Homo sapiens: one gene and its partners. The protein of the gene in region 1 purifies or fractionates together with the protein of each later gene. This does not show direct contact. Each region holds a gene or a part of one and is shown in the gene's direction. Other genes may lie near its edges.

What was found.
Region 2: the proteins of CA6 (region 1) and QSOX1 purify together in Homo sapiens (affinity purification with mass spectrometry; one large-scale study listed by BioGRID and IntAct). This does not show direct contact.
Region 3: the proteins of CA6 (region 1) and OLFM2 purify together in Homo sapiens (affinity purification with mass spectrometry; one large-scale study listed by BioGRID and IntAct). This does not show direct contact.
Region 4: the proteins of CA6 (region 1) and EDEM3 purify together in Homo sapiens (affinity purification with mass spectrometry; one large-scale study listed by BioGRID and IntAct). This does not show direct contact.
Region 5: the proteins of CA6 (region 1) and SLC27A1 purify together in Homo sapiens (affinity purification with mass spectrometry; one large-scale study listed by BioGRID and IntAct). This does not show direct contact.
Region 6: the proteins of CA6 (region 1) and GAS6 purify together in Homo sapiens (affinity purification with mass spectrometry; one large-scale study listed by BioGRID and IntAct). This does not show direct contact.
Region 7: the proteins of CA6 (region 1) and IDUA purify together in Homo sapiens (affinity purification with mass spectrometry; one large-scale study listed by BioGRID and IntAct). This does not show direct contact.

Annotation. Positions count from the first base shown.
Region 1 is NC_000001.11:8,966,368-8,969,867, forward strand, and holds part of CA6 (carbonic anhydrase 6 isoform 1 precursor), read left to right. Parts: intron 1-1,291; coding exon 1,292-1,449; intron 1,450-3,500. UniProt on the Homo sapiens protein: Reversible hydration of carbon dioxide. Its role in saliva is unknown.
Region 2 is NC_000001.11:180,189,369-180,192,868, forward strand, and holds part of QSOX1 (sulfhydryl oxidase 1 isoform a precursor), read left to right. Parts: intron 1-183; coding exon 184-306; intron 307-1,064; coding exon 1,065-1,212; intron 1,213-3,500. UniProt on the Homo sapiens protein: Catalyzes the oxidation of sulfhydryl groups in peptide and protein thiols to disulfides with the reduction of oxygen to hydrogen peroxide. Plays a role in disulfide bond formation in a variety of extracellular proteins.
Region 3 is NC_000019.10:9,926,516-9,930,015, reverse strand, and holds part of OLFM2 (noelin-2 isoform 2 precursor), read left to right. Parts: intron 1-3,500. UniProt on the Homo sapiens protein: Involved in transforming growth factor beta (TGF-beta)-induced smooth muscle differentiation.
Region 4 is NC_000001.11:184,702,859-184,706,358, reverse strand, and holds part of EDEM3 (ER degradation-enhancing alpha-mannosidase-like protein 3 isoform 2 precursor), read left to right. Parts: intron 1-3,362; coding exon 3,363-3,500. UniProt on the Homo sapiens protein: Involved in endoplasmic reticulum-associated degradation (ERAD). Accelerates the glycoprotein ERAD by proteasomes, by catalyzing mannose trimming from Man8GlcNAc2 to Man7GlcNAc2 in the N-glycans.
Region 5 is NC_000019.10:17,469,107-17,473,323, forward strand, and holds the start of SLC27A1 (long-chain fatty acid transport protein 1), read left to right. Parts: upstream 1-1,417; 5' UTR 1,418-1,434; coding exon 1,435-1,601; intron 1,602-4,217. UniProt on the Homo sapiens protein: Mediates the import of long-chain fatty acids (LCFA) into the cell by facilitating their transport at the plasma membrane.
Region 6 is NC_000013.11:113,820,049-113,823,062, reverse strand, and holds the end of GAS6 (growth arrest-specific protein 6 precursor), read left to right. Parts: intron 1-876; coding exon 877-1,105; intron 1,106-2,044; coding exon 2,045-2,199; 3' UTR 2,200-2,514; downstream 2,515-3,014. UniProt on the Homo sapiens protein: Ligand for tyrosine-protein kinase receptors AXL, TYRO3 and MER whose signaling is implicated in cell growth and survival, cell adhesion and cell migration.
Region 7 is NC_000004.12:993,544-997,043, forward strand, and holds part of IDUA (alpha-L-iduronidase isoform a precursor), read left to right. Parts: intron 1-3,500.

The DNA of each region.
Region 1 (3,500 bases):
CCAAAGTGCTGGGATTACAGGTGTGAGCCACCATACCTGGCCGTATGTTTATTTTTTGAGGAACTATTATACCATTTTCCGTGGTGGCTGCATCATGATTCTGGAATTCTTGACTTTCACTTAAATATATTAGAGTTACAAAAATAAATCTCTACCACAGAGCCCTTTTGGAGGTTATATCTTGAAATCTTCCAATAATAATCAAACTTAGAACTCTTTTGCCTACTCATGGGCTTATGCACTCTGAGACATTGTGGCCTTGGTTGAACAGGCCTATCTACGTATGTATCAAAACTATGTTCTCTGCCTTTAAGAAGCGCAGAAGTGCTCAGGGAAAGTGAAGCAAAATCCAACTCAATCCTGTGTTGCCTTGAGAGTCTTGTGCTGAGCTCAGGGGCTCAGTGTTGTTGACATGAATGAAACAAGGACCTCTCTAGAGCAGGAGCAGGTGTGGCTGCTGCAGGAGTTTTGCAGGCCTGGTGGAAGTGGCCCCACCCTACGCCCCACCTGTGGCTGGGCTTGGTTTCCAGCGGTTGTGGCAGGAAGAGCTCAGGACCAAATGCCTGTACCTGGACCCTGGCTTGGTTCTGATTCTGCATTTATTATTTAAAAAAATAATAAAAAAAACAACTTATTGTAGAGACGGGGCCTCCCTGTGTTGCCCAGGCTGGTCTTGAACTCTTGGCCCCAAGCAATCCTCCCGCCTTGGCCTCCCAGAGTGTTGAGATTACAAGCGTGAGCCACTGCGCCTGGCCTGATTCTGCATTTACAACTGTTGTCTACCCACTTCTCAATGAGCCCAAACCAAGGCATTTTGGTCTTTCTTCAAGGGCACTTACCCAGAAGTCTCCAGGGGCCATATTTATTTCTTTCATTGATCATAAAATGTGTCCTCTGCCTAGCCATGATAATGGTGACCGCAGCAGTTACACTTAGGAGTACTTCCCTATGTAGTGGTTCAATGCCAGCTGCTTTCCAGACGTTATTCCTTCTTACCCTCACAACAATCCTGCTGATTATTCCCTTTCTACAGATGAGAAAATGGCCGCAGGGTGAGCACCCGGCCAAGAGCACTCAGCCAGGAGCAGGTGTCTGAGTGCGTCTATCCCCAAAGTCTCTCCTCTCAATCCCTTCCAGGAAGAAGTAAACTGGGAAATTGTTTCTTAATCATCAGCTTCTATGTTCTGCTGAACTCAAGAGATTGGAACCTGGCGAGGCCTGGGCCTGAGCTGTCCTCCCGAGGGGCAGCGCTGGTCCCTGACATTCTGTTACCTTCTGTCTTCTTGGTCAGGACAAAGAACAACCCTGACTGGCCTTGACGTTCAGGACATGCTGCCCAGGAACCTCCAGCACTACTACACCTACCATGGCTCACTCACCACGCCTCCCTGCACTGAGAACGTCCACTGGTTTGTGCTGGCAGATTTTGTCAAGCTCTCCAGGACACAGGTAATGTATGGTATCACTTTGCCGAAGTCTTCCCATTCGATTGCCTGGTTAACAAGGGTTCTCCCCAGCATCTCAACGAACGTCAACAACTAAGGGGTCCTACAGTATTTTCTGTGTGCAGGGCTACTGTGCCTCGTCTAGCCAACCTTTTTTTTTTTTTTTTTTTTGTGAGACAGAGTCTCGCTCTGTCACCTGGGCTGGAGTGCAGTGGCACGATCTCAGCTCACTGCAACCTCCGCCTCCCAGGTTCAAGCAATTCTCCTGCCTCAGCCTCCCGAGTAGCTGGGACTCCAGGAGTGTGCCACCACGCCCGGCTAGTTTTTATTTTTAGTAGGGACAGGGTTTTATTATGTTGCCCAGGCAGGTCTCAAACTCCCAGGTTCAAGCAGTCTGCCTGTCTCAGCCTCCCAAAGTGCTGGGATTACAGGTGTGAGCCACTGCACCCGGCCATCTCCTTTTCTTAAACTTTTCATTTCCTTAGAAAAAGGTGGAAAAGACCCCTGCTCAAGGACACTCACACTCCAAAATGTTGCCAGTCAGGCTAGAAGTGCCCCCAGACACCTGACAAAAGCAAATGGTAAATTATCTCTGGGAAAATGACCTTAAATCCAGACCTAGAAGAATTTTCACAAATAAAGTTACTTGAAATTAGCTCAATTAAGAAAAAAAAATACAAAACATATGAGAAAAAAAGACATTATAGATGAGAACCAGCAGAATCAGACCTACAAAGACTTCAGTTAGTGGAATTATCAGACAATTAATATGACATAAGAATGTTTAACATGTATAAAGAAATAAAAGGTTTAAATATGAGAAAAGAGCAAAAAAGTATAAAAATGGACATCCAGACTTGGGACAAAAACTCAAATAGAATTTCTAGAAATGGAAAAATAGTATCAAAAATTAATAATCCAGGCCAGTTGTGGTGTCTCATGCCTGTAATCCCAGCACTTTGGGAGGCCAAAGTGGGTGGATCACCTGAGGTCAGGAGTTTGAGATCAGCCTGGCCAACATGGTGGAACCCCGTCTCTACTAAAAGTACAAAAAATTAGCCAGTCGTGGTGGTGGGGCGCTTGTAATCCCAGCTACCCCAGAGGCTGAGGTGGAAGAATCACTTGAACCTGGGACGTGGAGGTTGCAGTGAGCCAAGATTGCACTACTGCACTCCAGCCTGGGCAACAGAGCAAAACCCTGTCTCAAAAAAAAAAAAAGTTTGCTGGGCACGGTGGCTCAAGCCTGTAATCCCAGCACTTTGGGACGCCAAAGCGGGTGGATCACGAGGTCAGGGGTTCGAGACCAGCCTGGCCAACATGGTGAAACCCTGTCTCTACTAAAGATACAAAAAATTAGCCGGGCATAGTGGTGTGAACCTATAATCCCAGCCACTCAGGAGGCTGAGGCAGGAGAATCGCTTGAACCCAGGAGGCGGATGTTGCAGTGAGCTGAGATCATGCCATTGCACTCCAGCCTGGGCAACAGGGCAAGACTCCATCTCAAAAAAACAAAAACAAAAACCCAATGAATGGGTTTAACGCATGTTAGATACAGTTTGAGAGAGAATTAGTAAATTGGAGACAGCCAATAACATTATCTAGAATGCAGCACAGAGAAAAGGAGATGGAACTATGAAAAGAAGTGAAGAGACATTGTGTACTGGAAAGGTCTAGTAAATGTCTAATCAAAATCCTAGAAGGAGAAGAGAGGCAGAGTAGGGAAGAGGCATGATTTGACAAAATATTGGCTGACAATTTTCAGGAAGAGATACCAAGTCATATATTCAAGAATGCCAATTAGTTTCTCTCTCTGTCTCTCTCTCTCTCTGGGTGTGTAGATATGTGTGTGTGTGTATACACAACATCCTGCAGTAAACGCATCACATTGAAATCATCAAAGACAAAGAAACTATTTAAAAATTAGCCAGAAAGAAAAGACAGATTATCATGAAAAGAGTATTATTAGACAGAGAGTTGATTTAACAGCCACAGTGAAAGTCAGAAGGGAGTGGAAACATAATTTCAAAGTGCCGAGGGAAAAAAAATAGCCAATAT
Region 2 (3,500 bases), about 170 Mb from region 1:
AGTCATATTTGTGTCTTAGTTAGAATGTTTTCCTGGTGGTTTTGGAACTTTGCACAACCTCCTCCCCACTGCCCCCCGCCCCCCGCCCCCCGCCTTCTTCTGCATAGCTTCCTACCATCTGCAGGACGGGGAACTTGGGGAATTGCTTTTCACTCTCCAGCTTCCGCTTGTTCCTCCCCACAGTATTTCCCTGGCCGGCCCTTAGTCCAGAACTTCCTGCACTCCGTGAATGAATGGCTCAAGAGGCAGAAGAGAAATAAAATTCCCTACAGTTTCTTTAAAACTGCCCTGGACGACAGGAAAGAGGTGAGTCTGGGAAGCAAATAAAGATCTCTCCATCCTCCGTATTTATGAGAGTGCAAGGGGTTAACCCTGTCATTTCTGACCTTCTTCGCCAGTTTGCACCAGGGAGTCAGTGATCTTCGTTGGGTCCTAACAATAATCAATAAATGACTATTGATTGAGCTCTCTATGCGCACATCTCATTTAATCCTCATAATGTTAGTGGAAGGTAGATATTCTCCCCATTTAGCAGATGAAGAAACAGTACTTTGAAAAGGTTAAGCAACTTGTCTGGGTTCATGGAGCCAGTAAGTGTTTGGGCTGGGATGAAAACTTGGTGAGACCCCAGAGTTTTTAACAACTACCCTGTGCTGCCTCTTAGTTTGTGGTGCTGCTCAGCATGGCCTCCCTGGCCCTCTCCAGGGCACCTTCTGGGCTCCTGCTCATGCTGCTATTTGCAAAAGTGGGTCACTGCAGCCAGCAGAGGTGTAAAACCCTGTAGACTTGTAGGGTGTCAAATCTCGAAGGGACCTCAGAGATAACCCCCTTGTGTTACAGCTGGGGAAGTTGAGGCTGGAACGGGATGCAGCTTGATCTGGGTCACAGCTTTTTAGGTCTGCTGCTGCTTCAGTGGGTGGAACTGGTGAAAGGGAAATGCCACCTTCGAGGTGATAGACTGAGGGACCTCATTTGTCTTAGGGCTGTCTCCTAGAAGCTTCTGTCTCTGCCTCTCCCATCCTTTTCCTTCTCCATATGTGCACTCACACTCATGTGTCCCTCAGGGTGCCGTTCTTGCCAAGAAGGTGAACTGGATTGGCTGCCAGGGGAGTGAGCCGCATTTCCGGGGCTTTCCCTGCTCCCTGTGGGTCCTCTTCCACTTCTTGACTGTGCAGGCAGCTCGGCAAAATGTAGACCACTCACAGGAAGCAGGTACGTCCAGGACCCGTTCACCCCACTGTGCCTCCAACCCTGCTCTGTTCGGCCCTCCAAGGGGAGAGGGGGCAGGGAAGCTCCCTTGAATTGCCCCACTGGCTCCCAGCTGCCAGAAGATGGGGAGAGTCAGCCTTGGGGCTCTGGCTGGATTGCTCTATCTGCAGGTAGCCCCACACGGCCAGAATAGAACCAATCCCAGGAGGGAGCAGACTTTAGGAATTCAACCAGTCCTGTTTTCGGCCCCGGGAGCTCTGGGGCTGAGGCTTCTCCCTGTCTTTCTCCGGGCTTATAGTTTGCTTTGCTTTCAGTCTTCATGAAAAAATTGTGATTCTATTTTTTTATACTCTTAACAAAGAAAAAAACGTGTATTTTACAGTTTACATAGCTGATACATAGCAGGTGCTTTGAGCAATTTTATTGCACTTCCCACTGAAAAACAATTTCCTGGGGGAAGTTGGGGAAACACGTTTCCCCTGCTGCCTCGGATTGTCCACAAACTGCACCACCATGTTCTCCGGCCACGCTGCCCCACACCTGCTTTTGAAGACTGAAAGGATGCGCATCCAATTCAGTCCACACTGATTGAGGAACCAGGTTTATACCAGGCTGCGGCTTGGCTTGGAGGATAGATACATGGGTGAAAAGGGCGACAGTGCCCGCTCTTGGTGGACCTCTAGTGTGAGGCAGGGGGACAGAGAGGCCTGCAGTGCATCAGGGCTAGGGCCGTGGTGGAGAGAAAGATGTGGGGTGAAGAGAGGGCAGGCTCGACGCCATTGGGAAGGGGCCCGAGGCCTTACGGGGTGAGTTGAGGGGTGATGGGTGAGTAGGGATTCCGCCAGGAGAGGAGCATCCCAGCAGAGGGAGCAGCCTGTGTGGAGCCCCGTGAATCAGAGGAACTGCCAGGCAGTGGTGTGGGAAGCCAGTGTGTATGGAGCATCTCCACCATGCCATGTGGCGCTGCAGGTGCCGGGGACACAGCAGCATATGAGACAGGTCCCTGCCCCCACAGGGCCAGTATCTGAGTGGCAGGAGACAGACACAGAGGGATGGCTTCAGCCATGATGACGAATGCTGAGGAAGACAAAGCAAAGCAGTGCCGGAGCGGGTGCTGTCTGGAGAGGGGTCTGGGAAAGGCTTCCCTGTGGAGGGCCCGGTGCTGGGACCCATGTGGAGAGGAGAAGGCAGTGTGGGACGTCTGGGAAGAGAGTCTCCCAGGCTGTGTTGGTGTCCTTGGGCTGCACTCACAAATGTCAGGCTGGGGCTCAGCCAGTAGACGTCTGTTGTCTGAGTTCTGGAGGCTGAAGTGCAAGGTGGAGGTGTCTGTGCTGGTTTCTTCGAGCCTCTCCTTGGCTGGGCGGTGGTCGTCTTCTCCTTGTGTCTCCGTGCAGTTGTCCCTCTCCCAATCCATGTCCAAATTTCCTCTTCCTGCAAGGACACCAGTCCTATTGGATTAGGGCCCACCCTAATGACCTTATTTTACCTTCATTACCTCTTTAAAGACCCTGTCTCCAAATACGGCCACATTCTGAGAGGCTGGGGATTAGGGCTTCAACATAGGAATTTGGGGGGACATAATTCAGCCCATAGCACAGGCTGGAGACCAGCAGGTGCAAAGGACAAGCCTGGTGTGTGGGCAGCACTGAAAGAAGGCTGCTGTGGCCGGAGGGAGGGAGGTGAGGCTGCAGAGACAGGCCGGGGGCGGAGGTGAGCGCTCATGGGCTCAGAGGCCTTGGCGAGGGCAGGGTTTGGAGGTTGGTGTTGGCATTTTGAGAAGCCACTGGAGAGGCTAACGGAAGTGACAGTTGGTTAACACTTTAGAAAGGTGGAGGATGGGCTACTGCAGGCAGGGGGAGGCAGGGCAGCTGAGGAGCAAGCTGCATGCTCGCCCAGCAGTGGTGGTTGGGCCTGGACTAGGGTTGTCAGTGTGCCCCTGGAGGAAGTGGTCAGATTTGGGGATATGTTAAAGGCAGAGCTGAGGGACTTACTGATAGATTGGAGGAAGGGTATGTGGGAAGCAGGACTCGGGTGGACTCCAGGGTTGTGGGGCCTGAGCCTCTGGTGGATGATGGTCCCATAAGCTGAGGAGTCAGGGGCTCGGGTTGGGATGGTGGAATCAATGGCCCGCTTTGTGTCAATAGACCTCCCAATGGAGGTGTGCACAGTTGAGTCTGGAGTTCCAGGGAGAGGTGGGGAATAGAGAGATTAGCTTTATAGTCATTAGTAGCATCAGAGCTCAAGCTGTGGGACTGGATGAGCTCCCTGGCAGGGAGGTAGAGAAGAGTGCT
Region 3 (3,500 bases), on another chromosome or scaffold:
CCAGGCTGGAGGTCAGTGGCGCGATCTCGGCTCACCGCAACCTCTGCCTCCTGGGTTCAAGTGATTCTCCTGCCTCAACCTCCCGAGTAGCTGGGATTACGGGCATGCACCACCACATCCAGCTAATTTTGTATTTTTAGTAGAGACGAGGGTTCTCCATGTTGGTCAGGTTGGTCTCGAACTCCTGACCTCAGGTGATCTGCCTGCCTCAGCCTCCCAAAATGCTGGGATTACAGGCGTGAGCCACCACGCCTGGCCTGGTATGTGTGGGTTTCTGATGAGCCCAGTGGCTGGTGTGGGCAATGACTTTGTAGCCCCAGGATTCAGTGTTAGTGCCTGAGAGACAGTAATGTGCTGTTTTCATTTGTTCCTACATGCATGTATTCATTTATTTTATTTTATTTTATTTTATTTTATTTTGAGACGGGGTCTCACTCTGTCGCCCAGGCTGGCGTGAAGTGGTGCAATCTCGGCTCACTGCAACCTCCACCTCCCGAGTTCAAGCTCTTCTCCCGCCTCAGCCTCCCAAGTAGCTGGGACTACAGGCACACACCACCACACCCACCTAATGTTTACATTTTTAGTAGAGACAGGGTTTCTCTATATTGTTGTTCAGGCTGGTCTCAAACTCCTGACCTCAGGTGATCCACCCGCCTCAGCCTCCCAAAGTGCTGGGATTACAGGTGTGAGCCACCGCGCCCGGCCCATGTATTCATTTAGAGAGCATTCATTGAGAGCCTTCTGTATCTCAAGCGTTGTACTATGCAACAAGCACTGGGTGGTAGTTTGTGCTTTCAAGGGGTGGAGTAGATTTAACTTCTGGAGGAGTTGAGTCTGGCTGTGTTGGGAAAAAACTTGTCATGACAGGAACATTTTATTCCCATATCTAGGGAACTCTTGTCTGAGAACATTGACATGTCCTCCCTGCCAAGGTGGAAGCCCATTCTATCTCTTTTTTTCTTTTTGAGATGGGGTCTTGCCATGGTGCCCAGGCAGGCCTCGAACTCCTGGGCTTAAGCAATTCTCCTGCCTCAGCCTCCCAAGTAGTTGGGATTACAGGTGCACACCACCTCAGTGTGTCTTGCAACTTCATCCATCCAGAGTGCAGCCACAAACCAAGAAGTCACCAGGAAAGAGCAGAGAGTAGGGAGAGTAGATTCCATGAAGACTGTATACAAAAGCTTATTCTCTTTCTCTCTTTTTTTTTTTTTTAGACAGAGTCTCACTCTGTCGCCCAGTCTGGAGTGCAGTGGCACGATCTCATCTCACTGCAACCTCTGCCTCCTGGGTTCAAGCAATTCTCATGCCTCAGCCACCCAAGTAGCTGGGACTACAGGCGTGCACCACCATGCCTGGCTAGTTTTTGTATTTTTAATAGAGACGGGGTTTTGCCATGTTGCCCAGGCTGGTCTTGAACTCCTGGCCTCAAGTGATCCACCCACCTTGGCCTCCCTCAGTGCTGGGATTACAGGCATGAGCCACTGCATCCAGCCTGGAAAAGGTTGTTCTTGTTGCTCCTGGGGACCCAGTAGACTCTCGGTCCCAGTTTACTCTTACTTTACACATAGTTCCAACAATCCTGGGCAGCTAGTAACTAGCCTTGCTTAATAGATGAGAAGACAGGTGTCATTGCACAAGAAGAAAGAAACAAAAAGGCAAAGCCAGTTCAGCCATCAAATGAAATGGCAAATAGCTTCTCACTTTTTAGGCTCTAAGAGAGTCCTGGTGAATCCCAGGAAGAATACATGATGAGCACATGGTGAGCCGGGTTCTTTTTAAATTTTATTTTGTTTTTTTTTTTTTAAGACGCAGGGTCTTGCTCTGTTGACCAGGCTAGAGTGGAGTGGTGTGACCACAGCCCACTGTAGCCTCAACCTCCTTGGCCCAAGTGATCCTCCTACCTTAGCCTCTCAAATAGTTAGGACTACAGGTGTGTACCACTACATCCAGCTAATTTTTCTCTTTCTTTTTCTTTTTTTTGGTAGAGATGGGGGTCTCACTATGTTGCCCAGGCTGGTCTTGAACTCTTGGCCTTAAGTGATCCTCTTGCCTCAGCCTCCCAAGGTGCTGGGATTACAGGCATGAGCCACAGGGCCCAGCTAATTTTTGTATTTTTAGTAGAGACAGGGTTTCACAATATTGTTCAGGCTGGTCTCGAACTCCTGACCTCAAGTGATCCGCCTCAGCCTCCCAAGGTGCTGGGATTACAGGCATGAGTCACTGCACCCGGCCCACATTGTTTCTGTTCCTAATTTCTCTAGTAATTTCTATGAGAAAGACACTGATAGAGGCACTCACTCACTCAGGAGGGACGTGACACAGTCCGCTCTGAATGGCTGTCAGTTGCCAAATTTGGGAGACAGATGCAGCCGACACATGGTACAAAGTGCCAGATGTCAAGAGTCAAGTGGGCTTCCTGGGGGAGGTGGCATTTGAGATGGGCCTTGAAGGATGAGCGAGTGAAGACTGGAGGGTGGACACAGAAGAAAGTCATTGGTCATGCTGACAAGACCTGGTGGGTTTACCCTTATTTTACATGATTCTAACCATGTTTAAAAGAGGGGAAGTTTCTGGAAATGGGAACTAGGGTAAGTGTGTGGTTGATGCCTATGGTGGGTGCAGATAGGAGAAGGGAAGTGAGCTTGAAAAGGTTGTGATCTGACTGTAAAGGCTTCGAAAGCTGGGTTAAGGATTTTAGAATTTATTTATTCATTTATTTATTTATATTTTTTTCGAGACAGAGCCTCGCTCTGTCGCCCAGGCTGGAGTGCAGTGGTGCGATCTCAGCTCACTGCAACCCTCCCCTCCCAGGTTCAAGCAATTCTCCTACCTCAGCCTCCCAAGGAACTGGGTTAACAGGCGCGTGCTACCACGCCTGGCTAATTTTTGTATTTTTAGTAGAGACAGGATTTCACCATGTTGGCCAGGCTGGTCTCAAACTCCTGACCTCGTGATCTGCCTGCCTCGGCCTCCTAAAGTGCTGGGATTACAGGCGTCAGCCACCGTGCTGGACCTTATTTATTTATTTTTAGAGATAGAGTCTTGCTCTGTTGCCCAGGCTGGAGTGCAGTGACGCGATCACAGCTCACTGCAGCCTCAAACTCCTGTGCTCAGGCAATCCTCCCACCTCAGCCACCTGAGTCACTGGGACCACAGGCGTGTGCCACCATGCCCACATAATTTTTTTTGTTTATTTTTTGTAGTGACAGGGTCTCACTATATTGTCCAGGCCGGTCTTGAACTCCTGGGCTCATAAGATCTTCCTGCCTCAGCCTCCCAAACTGCTGGGATTACAGGCGTGAGCCACTGCACTTGGCCTAGAATTTAGTGAGCTGGTAATAGTGACTCATAGAAGAGGTTGTGCATGTTTAAATGGAAGACTTTAAAAATTTTTAATTGTGGTAAAATACACATAATATAAAATTTATCACTTTAGTCATTTATTTATTTATTTATTTATTTTTGAGATGGAGTCTCGCTCTCTGTCCCAGGCTGGAGTG
Region 4 (3,500 bases), about 180 Mb from region 1:
GAAAAGGTGCCCATGAGATCCATAACCCCCGAAGGGCAAGAATTACACTGTGCCACGTCCAGTGGGGAGCCATTGAAAATTTCCATTACTCCACAAAGATGCAGGCTTTGGAGGCAGACACATGAGAGTACAGTTCCTGGCTCTACCACAAAATTGCAGTGTAACCTTGGCCTAGCTTCAGTTTTTTAATCTGTAGATTAAATAGTATAATTTTTTTTTATTTGATAGTAGAATATTTTTGAGCTCCAGTGGAAGTGATAATAAATATATTTTAGGTGATTGTAAGGTTTAAAGATATATAAAATTTCTTGGCATAATAGCAGACATAGGATAAGTGCTACTATAACAGGGTTTACAGTATTGCTAGCAGATCTTTATCCCCTTGGATCTTTTTCTACCGAAATGACAAGTTACCACCTTTAAATCATCTTACCTATATGTATCAACTAGTGGGTTTTGCTTTTTTATCTTTCATAGACAATCACTTATATCATGATAAACAGGCCATGACTATTAGGGGAAATATAAATTTTTCTGTTTTAAAGTAAATAGGAGTTTACATTCAGAAAGAACTGTAAGACCTGGGCTCACAATATGCTGATTGTGAGTTCTTTTGTACAGCTTCTCTCACAGGGAAATCCATTTTGGATTCCCCCCTCCCCTGCCGCCCAATAGTTAAGGTAAATAAAAAAAAATAGTTCAGGTAAAACAGAATATTAACACTTATTATGTTGATTTAATGGATGCATAAATTTTATTAATAAACATTAGGAGAAGTCCTGTTTAATGACTTAAATCAGCAGTTGGCAAACTACAAGACTATAGGCCAAATCCAGCTCATTGCCCATTTTTGTAAATAAAAGTTTTATTGGGACACAGTCATGCCAATTTGTTTGTGTATGGTCTATGACTGCTTTGAACTGCAGTGATGGAGTTGAGTACTTACAGGAGAGAACTACAAAGCCTGAAATATTTATTCATCATCTAGCCAGTTACAGAAGAGATTTGCCGACCCCTGACTTAAATCATGCTCTTTATCCTTGGGTATTTCCCACACTTAGATTAGTTTTATTGCAGAATTTATTATATTAACCATCACTATCATTTTGAACAGTTCTTACCAAGACTTCAAAATGAAAATGTAAAGTATAAAGTGTAGAATTTATGCATTAATGTTTAAAAATATTTCTTTGTGTAGTATTTTGGTTTTTTATATTTTTCAGTGAAGTCTAATTCTCATGATCTTCTATAGTATGCAATAATTGTCAATTTTTGTTTTGTTTGTTTTGAGATGGTGTCTTGCTCTGTCACCCAGGTTGGAATGCAGTGGCGTGATCTTGGCTCACTGCAACCTCCATCTCTCAGGTTCAAGCAATTCTCCCTGCCTCAGTCTCCCGAGTAGCTGGGATTACAGGTGCCTGCCACCACGCCTGGCTAATTTTTATATATATTTTTTTCTTTTTAGTAGAGATGGGGTTTCTCCATGTTGGCCAGGCTGGTCTTGAACGCCTGACCTCAGGTGTTCTGCCTGCCTTGGCCTCCCACAGTGCTGGGATTACAGTCATGAGCCACCAAGCCTGGCCCGTCAAATGTTTTTTTTGGTAGCTATTAGTTGGAAAATGGTATACTGGGTTCTGTGGATAAATAAATAAGAGATGATGATCCTTACTCTCAGAAATTTTTTTTTTTTTTTTTTTTTTTTTTTTTTTGAGACAGAGTCTTGCTTTGTCACCCAGGCTAGAGTGCAGTGGCATGATCTTGGCTCACTACAACCTCCACCTCTAGGTTTAAGTAGGTCTTATGCCTCAGCCTCCTGAGTAGCTGGGATTACAGGCACGTGCCACCAAGCCTGGCTAATTTTTGTATTTTTAGTAGAGAAGGGGTTTCGCTGTGTTGGCCAAGTTGGTCTCAAACTCATGGCCTCAAGTGGTCTGCCTTGGCCTCCAAAAGTGCTGGGATTACAGCCATGAGCCACCGCACCCAGCCAAAAATTTAATTTTTAATGAGAAACTTTCTTGTGTTGACTTCTTTCTCCTGAGTTTTTTGTTTCTGACAAAGCATTTTGTTTTTGTTTTAATTGTATATAAATGAATAAATTAGGAATTAGCTGTTTTTTGTTGCAAGGGTTAGAAATACGAATTATCTTAGAAATCATGTGGCTGCAGGAGATAATTACGTTGGTTTAAGAAGGGAGGTTTTTTCACTACACAGAAATGGATTATTTTTAGTGAATTAAACAGTACAAATACAACTAGGATTCACCAGGAGGTAGAAGTGGGAACTAAAAATCACCAGGATCCATGATAGTGAATGTTTTTCACTTTTCTCTCTGTATCTCTACCTCTGGGTCCTTCTGAACTTTTCTTCCCTGCTTCTCTTTGCAATTCTGCTTCATTTTCCAGCTTCTCACCAGCCTTCTCTCTCTTTGTTCCTCAGTTCCAAAATGGCCATTCTAGTTTGCAGCCTCAGCCCCTAAGTCTGTGTCATTCAACTGGACTATTACCCCCTGCTAACTGAAACAGTCTTTCTGTGTGCCAGTTCCAGGTCCCCCAGAGAGACTCAGGGTCAGGTAGCCATCTTTTGTCTAATCAATTATTACCAAGAGGATGGGTCATGCATTCTGCACTTAGCAGGTCCTATGAGAGTGAGCACCCTGAGACAGGACAGATAGTTTCTTCTGGGAGACTGGCATGCGATTTGGAGGTGGTCGTGATTGTCGTCTTCAGTAAAACAGCATGTTGCTGGTACTACTACTATTAATAGTTCTACTACTATTATTTAACCAATGCAAAATAGCAATACTGTTTAGTTTAGCTTATAGAGGAAGAAGCACTATAGTCATAACTATTCTTTGTGTGCATTATATAAAAAAGAAATGTCCATTTTTAGTTTGGTAAAACAATGTAATCATGCCAGTAGTGGAAATTTTCAACAATAAAATTCATTCATAGTTCTATCACTGTAATCCGAGTCATTGATTTTTTCCTTTCTAGGCTTTTCCATAAGCATATGAAATTTTTATAGTCATAATCATAGAATTCTGTATTCTACTTTTTAAATGTATTATTATTCTGTGTGTCCTATCAAGTAGGTCATTATAATTTACTTATAATGGTGTACAGTTGTTTACAATTATAAATAGTCTAGTAAAATTATTTGGGCATAGGGCTTTTCGCTACTTTTGAATTATTTCCTTTGGATACGTTTCTATGAGAATTAATGGGTCCAAAAATTATGTTGGTTTTTATGGTTCTTGATGCATAAAATTAATTCTGTCATTGTAAAAAATCAGTAACAATTAGTAGATAGATCTTTTTAATGGCTGGATATTTTGATGTTTGCTGTATTTATTTTCTGGCTAGATGACAATGAGGGGAGCAGCAGTGATACTGCCCCTCTGTTCCAGATGGCAGGTGATGGAAAGGATACAGATGACATCAAGATCCCCATGCTGTTCTTATTCAGCAAAGAAGGAAGTATCATACTGGATGCCATCCGGG
Region 5 (4,217 bases), on another chromosome or scaffold:
GGTGCTTCTAGGAAGGATGGGGACCTGGCGTGTGGATTTTGTCCTCCCTGGGATCCTGGGGTGTGACGGTGAGACTTAACCGACAAGGCTTCGGGACATGGATTAAGAATTAGCTGTGTCCTTGAATCACACGTGTTAAGACCGCGGCGGTGTTTACAGTTAGAGACTTCTGAGGCCCCAATGGTGTGAGTTGAGCACTCCCCCGGGCCCTGGAACGTGTTTTTAAGACCGAAAGAGGCTTTGGGGCTTGGATTTAGGACAAGCTGGAGCAAGAATACAGCCCGCGCGGGCCGTGGGTGTGGACTGGGATATTTTTGGTCCCCCGGGGTAGAGATCCTGCACGCCAACTAGGGCTCGGGTCCTGATATCTTGCGAGCCACGCCCCAAGGCTGCAGGACACGTGTGTTTCCTAAAAGGAGAGGGGGTGGGGCAAGGCTTGGTTGTCATGGAGACAGCGGACGACCCTGGCGGGCCGTTCTAGCACCCATGTCTCTTTGGCCGTCGCCTCTCCGGTCCGGTTGCCTCTCTATGGTCGTGGCTTCTGGAAGACGGCCGGCCTCGGCTCTGCGGGCTGAGGGGCTTCGAAGTAGACAGGAGGGAAGAGGGGCGGGGCCTAGGTCCTAGGGGGGCCGGAGTGAAACCCAGGAGGTGGCGACCGAGCCAAAGCCTGAGGGCGGGGCCCGTGGCCAGGATAGAACCTGAGCCTGGGAACTTGGGCTAGGCCCGGAACTGGGGTGGGGCTTGAACGGATTGGGGAGGGCTCTAGTTTCGGGAGGGTGGGGCGTGTGCTTATTGCGGGGGGGTGGGGAGGCATATGTCTAACCTAGGGGGTGGGGCCTGGCTGAGAGGGGCGGGACTCGGGGAGAGGGCTTGTACCTGTGGGCTGGGCTAGAAGCATAACCTAAGGGCGGGGCCCAGTGAGTGGTGAAAAGGCCACGGGGTAGAGGCAGGACCAGGAGGAAAGGGGACAGGACGTGAAGGGTAATTCGGGGATCGAGGATAGAGGCTAGATGAAGGCATGTGGCGAGGCCTGACAGTGACCGACAAGGTGGACATGCTGGCTCTGGGGGCGGGGACTGTTGTAAGATTGGCAGGGAAGGATGGGCTCAAAAATATGGAATAGAGCGGACCCAGGGTCCGGGGGCGGAGCCTGGCCAGGACCTGGCCAATCCCAGGCCTGGGGCCCTGGTCTGGTTCCTAGTTAGCGGGCGGGTGTAAAAGCCTGGAAAGGGGCGATGCCTGGCCTGAGGAGTTGACCAATCCCAGGCCTGGGGGCGGAGTCTGACTCGGAGCGCGTTCCCGGACTCGCGGGGGGCGCAGAGCCGAGGCCTGGGGGCGCGGCTCGCTGTAGAGGCGGGGGCGGTCGTGGGGCGGAGCGGGTCGTGGGGCGGGGCTGGAGCGGCCCGCGGCCTCAGCTCTCTCTGCTTCCCCAGGATGCGGGCTCCGGGTGCGGGCGCGGCCTCGGTGGTCTCGCTGGCGCTGTTGTGGCTGCTGGGGCTGCCGTGGACCTGGAGCGCGGCAGCGGCGCTCGGCGTGTACGTGGGCAGCGGCGGCTGGCGCTTCCTGCGCATCGTCTGCAAGACCGCGAGGCGAGACCTCTTGTGAGTGTTGCCGGGATCCGTCCAGGGCTGGGGGCGGGGCTGAGGGCTCTGGGGGCGCACGGTGCAGGGCTGGGTTGCGGGGACGGCTTGGAGGGTCCGGAGAGCTGAGGGTGCTTTGTAGGTTGGGGGCGGGGCTGGGCCGAGGGCTGGGCGGGGGCGGGGCCTGAGAGGGTGACCAGTTGGGGGTCTCTGAGGGGGCTACAGGGGACACTTTAAGGATTTCTCGAGGAAGATGAGTAGCCTCTAAGGTGCTTCGGGCGTTGCAGGCTGCTTAGGAGATGATCTCAGGGGATTTGGGGGGCAATTTGGGGGTCTTTGGGCAACTGGTGGAAATTCCAGGGAGCTGGGGCTGACTGGAAATCCGTGGCGGTGTGGGGGTCTTTTTGGAGCCGTGATAACTGTGAGAGACTTCAGGGGGCTCTCCAGTAGGTCACCGGGGCTCACAGGGACGACCCAATAGATAGTCTCTGGGGGGTTGCCAAGACACTTTGGGTCTATCTAGGGCTTTCTCTGAGGGATGAGCGAGCTGCTCTATAAAGGACTTCCCGGGTTTCTGAAGGTGTGAGTTTCCTCGGGATCGTTTACAGCTGGGGCACTGTTTGAGATTTTGGGGTCTGTGTGGGACTTTGGGTTTGGGAGTTGTTCGGAGTGTGTCGGGAGGCTGCTGTGTATTCCAGGACTTGTTTGGGGGGTCTCTTCTGGAGACTGGGACACTGGATTCATGCTAGGGGGGCAGATTCTGGTGTCCTGTGCAAGGATCCTTGGAGGGTTTTTGCGGTGTCTCTGAGGGACTTGCTCAAACGAGCCGTTGGGGGTCCTTCTGGGATGAAACAGGCATTGCTGGGGGCTTCTATCAGAGCAGACCTCAGGAACAGCACCACGTGGGAGCAGGTGAGCGCCGGCTAGCGGGGCAGGGCTCAACACCTTCACAGCTCCTTGTAAGATGGAGTAGCAAGAGGGACTGAACCCATTGTAAGGAGGGCACAGAGGGTGTGGAGATGGGAAAGATCCCACCGTAAGTTGACTGGTTCTGAACTTTCTAAAACTCACCCCTTCTGCATGCCATGGCCCCCTGCCCCCGGCTCCTTGGTTGTTCTGATGTGGAAATCTGACTGTGCCCTCTGCTCAGACACCTTCCATGGCCAGCCCATCCTTGGCAGAAGGAAGACTCAGCCCCTAGCTGGGCACTCAAGGTCCTACCATCTGTTCCCTGCCCACCTGCCACTCCCCCCATCCATATGTTCACCTGGTCTTCAGAAAGACTTGCAGTGTCAAGCTCAAGCTGCCCAGAACATACTGGACCCCTTTTAGCCAGGGCAGGCTCTCCCTCTGGGAACCTTTGCTGAATTTTCCTGCTCAGCACCCTCCCATAGCTCCTTGTTGCCCTTAGAATTGACGCCATACTGGCCGGGAGCGGTGGCTCACGCCTGTAATCCCAGCACTTTGGGAGGCCGAGGCAGGCAGATCACGAGGTCAGGAGATCAAAACCATCCTGGCTAACACGGTGAAACCCCGTTTCTAATAAAAATACAAAAAAATTAGCCAGGCGTGGTGGTGGACGCCTGTAGTCCCAGCTACTCGGGAGGCTGAGGCAGGAGAATGGTGTGAACCCCGGAGGCGGAGCTTGCAGTGAGCGGAGATCATGCCACTGCAGTCCAGCTTGGGCGACAGAGTGAGACTCCGTCTCAAAAAAAAAAAAAAAAATAGAATTAGAATTGAGGCCATACTCCTGAGCATTGCGCACGAGGTCCCTGACCATGTCCCAGCCTCCGCTTACTTCCCTTTTGTCGCCTAGCTGCACTTACCTTTTGTCTATTGCTCATTTGTTTGTTTGTTTGAGGCAGAGTCTCACTCCGTCGCCCAGGCTGGAGTGCAGTGGTGCGATCTTGGCTCACTGCAACCTCTGCCTCCCAGGTTCAAGTGATTCTCCTGCGTCAGCCTCCCAAGTAGCTGGGACTACAGGCACGTGCCACCATGCCCAGCTAATTTTTGTAATTTTAGTAGAGATGGGGTTTCACCGTATTAACCAGGCTGGTCTCAAACTCCTGACATCACGTAGTCCGCCTGCCTTGGCCTCCTAAAGTGCTGGGATTACAGGCATGAGCCACCATGCCTGGCTCCCTTTTTTTTGAGACAGGGTGTCTTCTCTGTTGCCCAGGGTGGACCAGCCTCCATCTCCTGGGCTCAAGCAATCCTCCCACCTCAGCCTCCTGACTAGCTGGGACTACAAACGCCTGCCTCCGCTCCTGGATAGTTAATAGAATGTTTTTTATAGAGATGAGGTCTCGCTATATTGCCCAGTCTGGTCTGGAACTCCTGGCTTTAAGCGATCCTCCTACCTCAGCCTCCCAAGTGGCTGGGATGACAGGTGCACACCACCACACCTGGCTAATTTTTTTATTTTTTGTAGAGACGTGGTTCTGCCACGTTGCCCAGGCTAGTCTCGAACTCCTGGCCTCCAGCGATCACCCAATTTCAGCCTCCCAAAGTGCTGGGATTACCGCGCCCAGCGTGAACTGCTTTGAACCATATTGTCTACTTGACTTTCAGACAGCCAGATGGTGCAGTTGGAGTTGCAAACTCATGTGAGGTTATGAGTCATCGATCGAGATTTCA
Region 6 (3,014 bases), on another chromosome or scaffold:
GTTTAAGTCAGATGATTTCAGCAACAAACTCAGTTTTCCAATTTCCCTGGAAAAGTCGGATCTGTGACCTTGGCCGGTCCCCCAACAGCGTCTTTCCGTGGGGGACACCGGGTGGAGCTGAGTGCAGCTGCCCCTTGGACAAGGTCCCCCCACCCCCGGTCCTCACAATAAGTCAGCTGTCCTGGGCTGGGGGACTCATGCTGTTTTCCCCACAGAACAATCAAGAGGTGACAGAAACAGCTTTTATTCTCTCGCTCGTGTGCTAAGGAGGGAGACATGGGTCAAACCAGAGAGGCTCACGTTCTCCAAGTCTGCCCACCCCGGGGCCACAGAGCCCTCCCGCTTGCTGGGATACGACAGACAGGCTTGGTTCATGCAAATGCTCGTTACCAGGGCCAGACCCAATCTCAGCATCTGGAATAAACAGCTGCTGTTATGTAGCAACAGCCGACCCCTGGGCTGCTGGGCTGTGGTGCCAGCGTGAGTGCCCACCGGGCTGGGAGGCCGCCACCGCAGGGCTGGGTCCTGGGTCCCCATCAGGGCCACCCCAGTTCCTGGTCAAGTGCAGCCTCGGTCTTGTGTGTGCCTGGTGCCTGGGGCTGGGGTTGACCCTCTCACACCCAACCTGGGGGCCACACTTGTTCCCCCACAGCCTCCCAGGCTGGCCCCTGGCTTTACGTGCAGAGAAGCTGAGCCCCAGGTGGGGTGGGGGTGTCATCCACAGTCAGCGAGCATCCAGACCCAGGGCTGCAGGGAACCCTGGACGGAGACAGGCGTGCGGCGTAGGGGTGGCCAGCAGCTGTGAGGACCAGCTTGGACCTAACAGCTCACGTAGGGGTGGCCGGCAGGCCCTGACCACACCTCGGTCTCCTGCAGCTGGTGGTCCTGGCCGTGGAGCATACGGCCTTGGCCCTAATGGAGATCAAGGTCTGCGACGGCCAAGAGCACGTGGTCACCGTCTCGCTGAGGGACGGTGAGGCCACCCTGGAGGTGGACGGCACCAGGGGCCAGAGCGAGGTGAGCGCCGCGCAGCTGCAGGAGAGGCTGGCCGTGCTCGAGAGGCACCTGCGGAGCCCCGTGCTCACCTTTGCTGGCGGCCTGCCAGGTAGGTGCTCCCTGCTCCGCTCAACCCGGGTGAAGAGCTCCAGGGAGGCCCAGCTTGGTCACCCCAGATCTAACCTGGACAGGCTGGGGTTTCTGGTAGTGAATGCGGAAGAGGACTTGTGTTTTAAGAGGAAGGAGAAGTCCAGGTGGGTCGTTAGTGGCTATTATGGTGTCTCGGTGCTGGTCAGGTCATTGGCTGAGACTGAGAAACACGTACGGGGGCCGGCATTGGCCTGAGTCAGGCCCCACGAACCTGCATCTTCAGGGAGCATTCGTCCACACCCATCAGACCAGCCCCGGGGGAGAGGGCTGGGCAGACCTCGGGCCAGGCTGCAGTTGGGACCCGCGGCTGTCACCGCAGCTGTTAGCAGCGAACAGAGTGACCGCCAGCCCCTCCCATGTCCAGCAGGGCGTCCTGCCGTGTCCCATGGGCTACACAGCACAGAGGCTGGGACCGGGGATGTCCTTGCCATGAGCTGGGAGGGTCAGCGGAAAGGCACGTGGGAGCCGGCAAGTCCTCGGCTGCCCGCAGGTTTTCACTTGCGGCAAACGGCAGGATTTCTCTCTTGGCTGCCAGACACAGACTCCACTTAGTTTTAATAAACAGAGCTTTGAAGAGGATGAGAGCGAGCCAGGAGGCCTGCAGCCTGAATGACTCACTGGGCACAGAAGAAGATCACGTTTAACCGATGGGACTGTCTGTGCTCCCAGCGGGGAAGGGAGGGCTGGCGTCTGCAGAGCCCAGGCTGGCAGATGCCTCCTGCTTGTCTGCCGGGTCTGCGGCCAAACGAACGGGGACCGAGAAGTTAGAGAAGAAAGGGAAACCCTGCCCTTTCGGAGGGAACCCGGGGCTGGCCACAAGCGCTGCCGGGGGTGGGGGGGCCAGGCGGGGCCGGCCACGTGGTGAGCTAAGATATGTTGTTCTCTCCCTGCGGCCCAGATGTGCCGGTGACTTCAGCGCCAGTCACCGCGTTCTACCGCGGCTGCATGACACTGGAGGTCAACCGGAGGCTGCTGGACCTGGACGAGGCGGCGTACAAGCACAGCGACATCACGGCCCACTCCTGCCCCCCCGTGGAGCCCGCCGCAGCCTAGGCCCCCACGGGACGCGGCAGGCTTCTCAGTCTCTGTCCGAGACAGCCGGGAGGAGCCTGGGGGCTCCTCACCACGTGGGGCCATGCTGAGAGCTGGGCTTTCCTCTGTGACCATCCCGGCCTGTAACATATCTGTAAATAGTGAGATGGACTTGGGGCCTCTGACGCCGCGCACTCAGCCGTGGGCCCGGGCGCGGGGAGGCCGGCGCAGCGCAGAGCGGGCTCGAAGAAAATAATTCTCTATTATTTTTATTACCAAGCGCTTCTTTCTGACTCTAAAATATGGAAAATAAAATATTTACAGAAAGCTTTGTAACACCGCGTGGCCGTCATCTGCTCCCCGCGGGGTTCTGCACACGTAGCAGCGTTTGGGATGAGCGGGGCTGCCAGGGCTCCAGGCCGCACCCTCAGCCGCTCCAAAGATCCCTCCCTCTTTTCTGCTCCCAGCCTGGTTGGGCAGCCACGGTCTGCTCCCCAGGAGCCTCTGACTCCTCTGGTAGTGGCGGCAGGGGCTGGAGCCTCAGTTTACTTGTTCTGTAAATGCGGAGAACGCCCTGCTCGGCCCCCACCACAGGCAGCCAGTCATTGCTGAGTGAGGAGGGCTTGGCACACAAATGCAGGCTGCTGGGGCAGCGGCCTCTGAGCCAACCTGGGAGGGACCCCGAGCTGGGACCGAGGGCCGGAAGACACCGAGGCAGCGCCTGCACCCCTGTGCCATTCCCGTCCCCACCCTCCTGCACAGATCCACTTGCTTCCGGGCCTCAAGTGTGTTCTGTTGAGAAAGGGAAACTGCTTTCTCTGTGTCGGTCTGGGGTA
Region 7 (3,500 bases), on another chromosome or scaffold:
GGGGCTTGTAGGAGTTAGAGCTGTGTGGGCCTCTGAGGAGCTCCCAGCCTCCCAGGAGCCGCTGCAGCTGTGGCTCTGCGGCCCTGCCGGGGGGGCTTAGGGACCAGCGGGAGGCGGGGGCTCAGGGGCTGAGCACAGGTAAACCTTCAGCTCTGGGGTCTGGGGTCGAGTGCAGCAGCCTTCAAACCCAGGCGGGGCTGAGGGAGGCTTGGTCTCCGTGTCCAGTCGCCGGACACCCTCCTGGTCCTGCAAGGAGCCAGCCTGGTCCAAGCTGGAGCAGGGCAGAGGCTGACAGCCGGCTCAGCCCAAGGCTGCCGGTGCGTGCATATGCGTGTGTGCTCGCGTAAGCCCTGTGTGTGGTGCTCACCGCCCAGGGCGAGGACTGCCGGGGTCAAGGTGCCGTGACTGGCCAGGAGTCCTGGTCTGACTGGACCCAGCACCGACCCACAGCGCCTGGTCACCCTCACGGCTCCTCTGCCCTCCCCTCTACCACAGACCAGGACCGGCAGTGCCTGCCTCATAGGGCTGGGGTGAAGATAAATGATTTTTTTAAGTGAACTAAATTAGGCCCACACGTGAAAATAAGGGTAAGCTGCTTTTTAAAAGGAATTATTAGCCAGGCACGATGGTTCACTCCTGTAATTCCAACACTTTGGGAGGCCTAGACAGGAGGATCGCTTAAGGCCAGCAGTTCAAGACCAGCCTGGTCAACATAGTGAGACGCCCCCCACCTTTTCTTTTTTTTTTTTTGAGGCGGAGTCTTGCTCTGTCACCCAGGCCGGAATGCAGTGGTGTGATCTCGGCTCACTGGAAGCTCTGCCTCCTGGGTTCACGCCATTCTCCTGCCTCAGCCTCCTGAGTAGCTGGGACTACAGGCGCCCGCCACCGCGCCCGGCTAATTTTTTTTTTTTTGAGACGGAGTTTCGCTCTGTTGCCCAGGCTGGAGTACAGTGGCATGATCTCGGCTCACTGCAAGCTCTGTCTCCCGGGTTCAAGTGATTCTCCTGCCTCAGCCTCCCGAGTAGCTGGGACTACAGGCACCCGCCACCACGCCCGGCTAATTTTTTGTATTTTTAGTAGAGACGGGGTTTCACCATGTTAGCCAGGATGGTCTTGATCTCCTGACCTCGTGATCCACCCACCTCGGCCTCCCAAAGTGCTGGGATTACAGGCTTGAGCCACTGCACCCGGCCGCCCCCTGCCCCCCAACCTTTAAAAAATTAAAAGTAAAAAATTAGCTGGGTGTGGTGGTGTGTGCCTGTATCCCAGCTACTCAAGCGGCTCAGGTGGGAGCATGGCTTGAGCCCAGGAGTTTGAGGCTGCCATGAGGTATGATTAGGCCACTGCACCCTATCCTAGGCCACAGAGCAAGAGCCCGTCTCAAAAACAAACGCTGTCATTGGCCCAGCACTTTGGGAAGCTAAGGTAGGAGGATTGCTTGAGCCCTGGAGGTCCAGGCTGCAGTGAGGTATGTTTGTAGCGCTTCACTCCAGCCTACAAGTCTTTTTTTTTTTTTTTTGAGATGGAGTCTCGCTCTGTTGCCCAGGCTGGAGTGCAGTGGCACAATCTCGGCTCACTGCAGCCTCTGCCTCCCGGGTTCAAGCGATTCTCCTGCCTCAGCCGCCTGAGTAGTTGGGACTACAGGCGTGTGCCACCACGCCCGGCTAATTTTTGTATTTTTAGTAGAGACAGGGTTTCACTATGTTGGTCAGGCTAGTCTTGAACTCCTGACCTTGTGATCCACCCGCCTCGGCCTCCCAAAGTGCTGGGATTACAGGCGTGAGCCACCGTGCCCGGCCAGTTCTGTCTCAAAAAAAAAAAAAAAATTCCTTGGGAGCCTCAGGTCCCCCCGACTTTGACAGTGAGTACTGGGTGGGAGCCTGCACGGGGCACCTGTGGCCGGAGGGTGAGTGTAACGAGGGGCTGCAGCCCTCAGTGCTCTCCCATCCCAAGGGAGGCCAGGAGGCTGCGGTGGGTCCCTCGGGTGGGGCTGGAAGGCCAACCCGGCCCTGGCACCTTGGGCAGCCTGACTCTGTCCGGGGAACAGAAGCCACAGGCTCTACTTCTCCTGTCCATGTGGGATTGAAGCCGAGGGTCTCGCAGAACCAGCTGATGTGCCGGGGCTCCATTTCCCCAAGACGAGGACACTGACATTGATGGGGCACAGCCCCGGAGGGAGGAGACCCTGGACACTCACCCCACCAAAGGTACCTCCTTGTGGAAGCCGTCTGCCAAGCGCTGCTAGTTCCCCACAGCCCTGGGTGAGCCCAGGGAAGACTGGGCTGCAGTGCCCCCATTTGGAGGTGAAATGGGAGTGGAATGTAGTTGGGATGGCCAGAGAGTAGGAGACATCCTAAGTGTGAGATGTGGACAGGGCTGAATGCTCCAGGGTCTCGTACCCCAGAGTGTGAGATGCGGGCAGGGCTGAACGCTCTGGGGTCTCGTACCCCTGAGTGTGAGATTCGGGCAGAGCTGAACAGGCTCCAGGGTCTCATACCCCCATAGCCTCCACCTGGGATGCCCTCTCCAAGTCTGATTTCTCCTCGAAGCCCCTGCCCTGTCCTCCAGAGTCTGAGCCCTTGCTTCCACCCCAGCCCAACCTGGGCCCCAGTGGTCCCTGGGAAGCAGCTGTTTGCTCAGCAGTTGGGAGCTGTGCTGTAAGAAGCGGTTGGCCAGTGGGTGGGGTAAGGCAGTCACGCAGGGCCTCAGGTCCCTCCCTGGGACAGATAAGGGCCCCTCTGGGTGCAGCCACCAGCAGGGTTGTTGGAGAACTGGGGAGACCCAGGGGGCTGGGGTTGTTCCCTCAAGGTCTCCCTAAAGGAGGCAGGGAGGACCTGGGTGCTACAGCAGGGGTGGGGCACCTGGTGCAGACGCCTGCATGCAGGGTGGGGTGGGCAGTGCCACCTGGGGCCACAGAAAAACCTGGAGTGGGAGGTGGCCCTTCCCCCCTCAGGAAAGGTGGTGGAGGTTTCCAGAGGCTGGCTTATGGGGACCTGTGGTGAGGTTTTAGGCAGGTGAGCGTAGTTCAGGAACAGCCTCAGCCGCACTGCAGGGGCCTGGCCTCAGGTCTTCTGCAGGCATTGGGCCTTATGCCCTTTTAGTCCCCACCTAGGCTGGGTGTCTAAAGTAGGTGAGGTCATCACTGCAGGATCCTTGGGGCCTGACCTGCCCCCTCCCACGTGTCTCTGCCTCAGTTTCTCTGAGCATTGAGGCAGTGGCTGGTGCTGTCCTGTGGCCAGGCCCAGAGGCTGAGTGCCCAGGGGGTCCAGGGGCCTTGCTGGCCAGAGAGAGTGGGTAGCCCATTCTACCCCGAGCCTGTGCACGCGCAGGGCTGCCAACACCTCCTTCCTTCCCCGCTTGGCCCACGCAGGACAGGGGGCGTGGGGGCCCCAGCAACTGGGACCTGCCTGAATCCGCCTCCCTCCTGAACCCCCCTCCCGCCTGAACCCCTGGCCAGTCTTGTGTCACACGCTTACTTCCTTAGTTTTGTCTTTAAATCA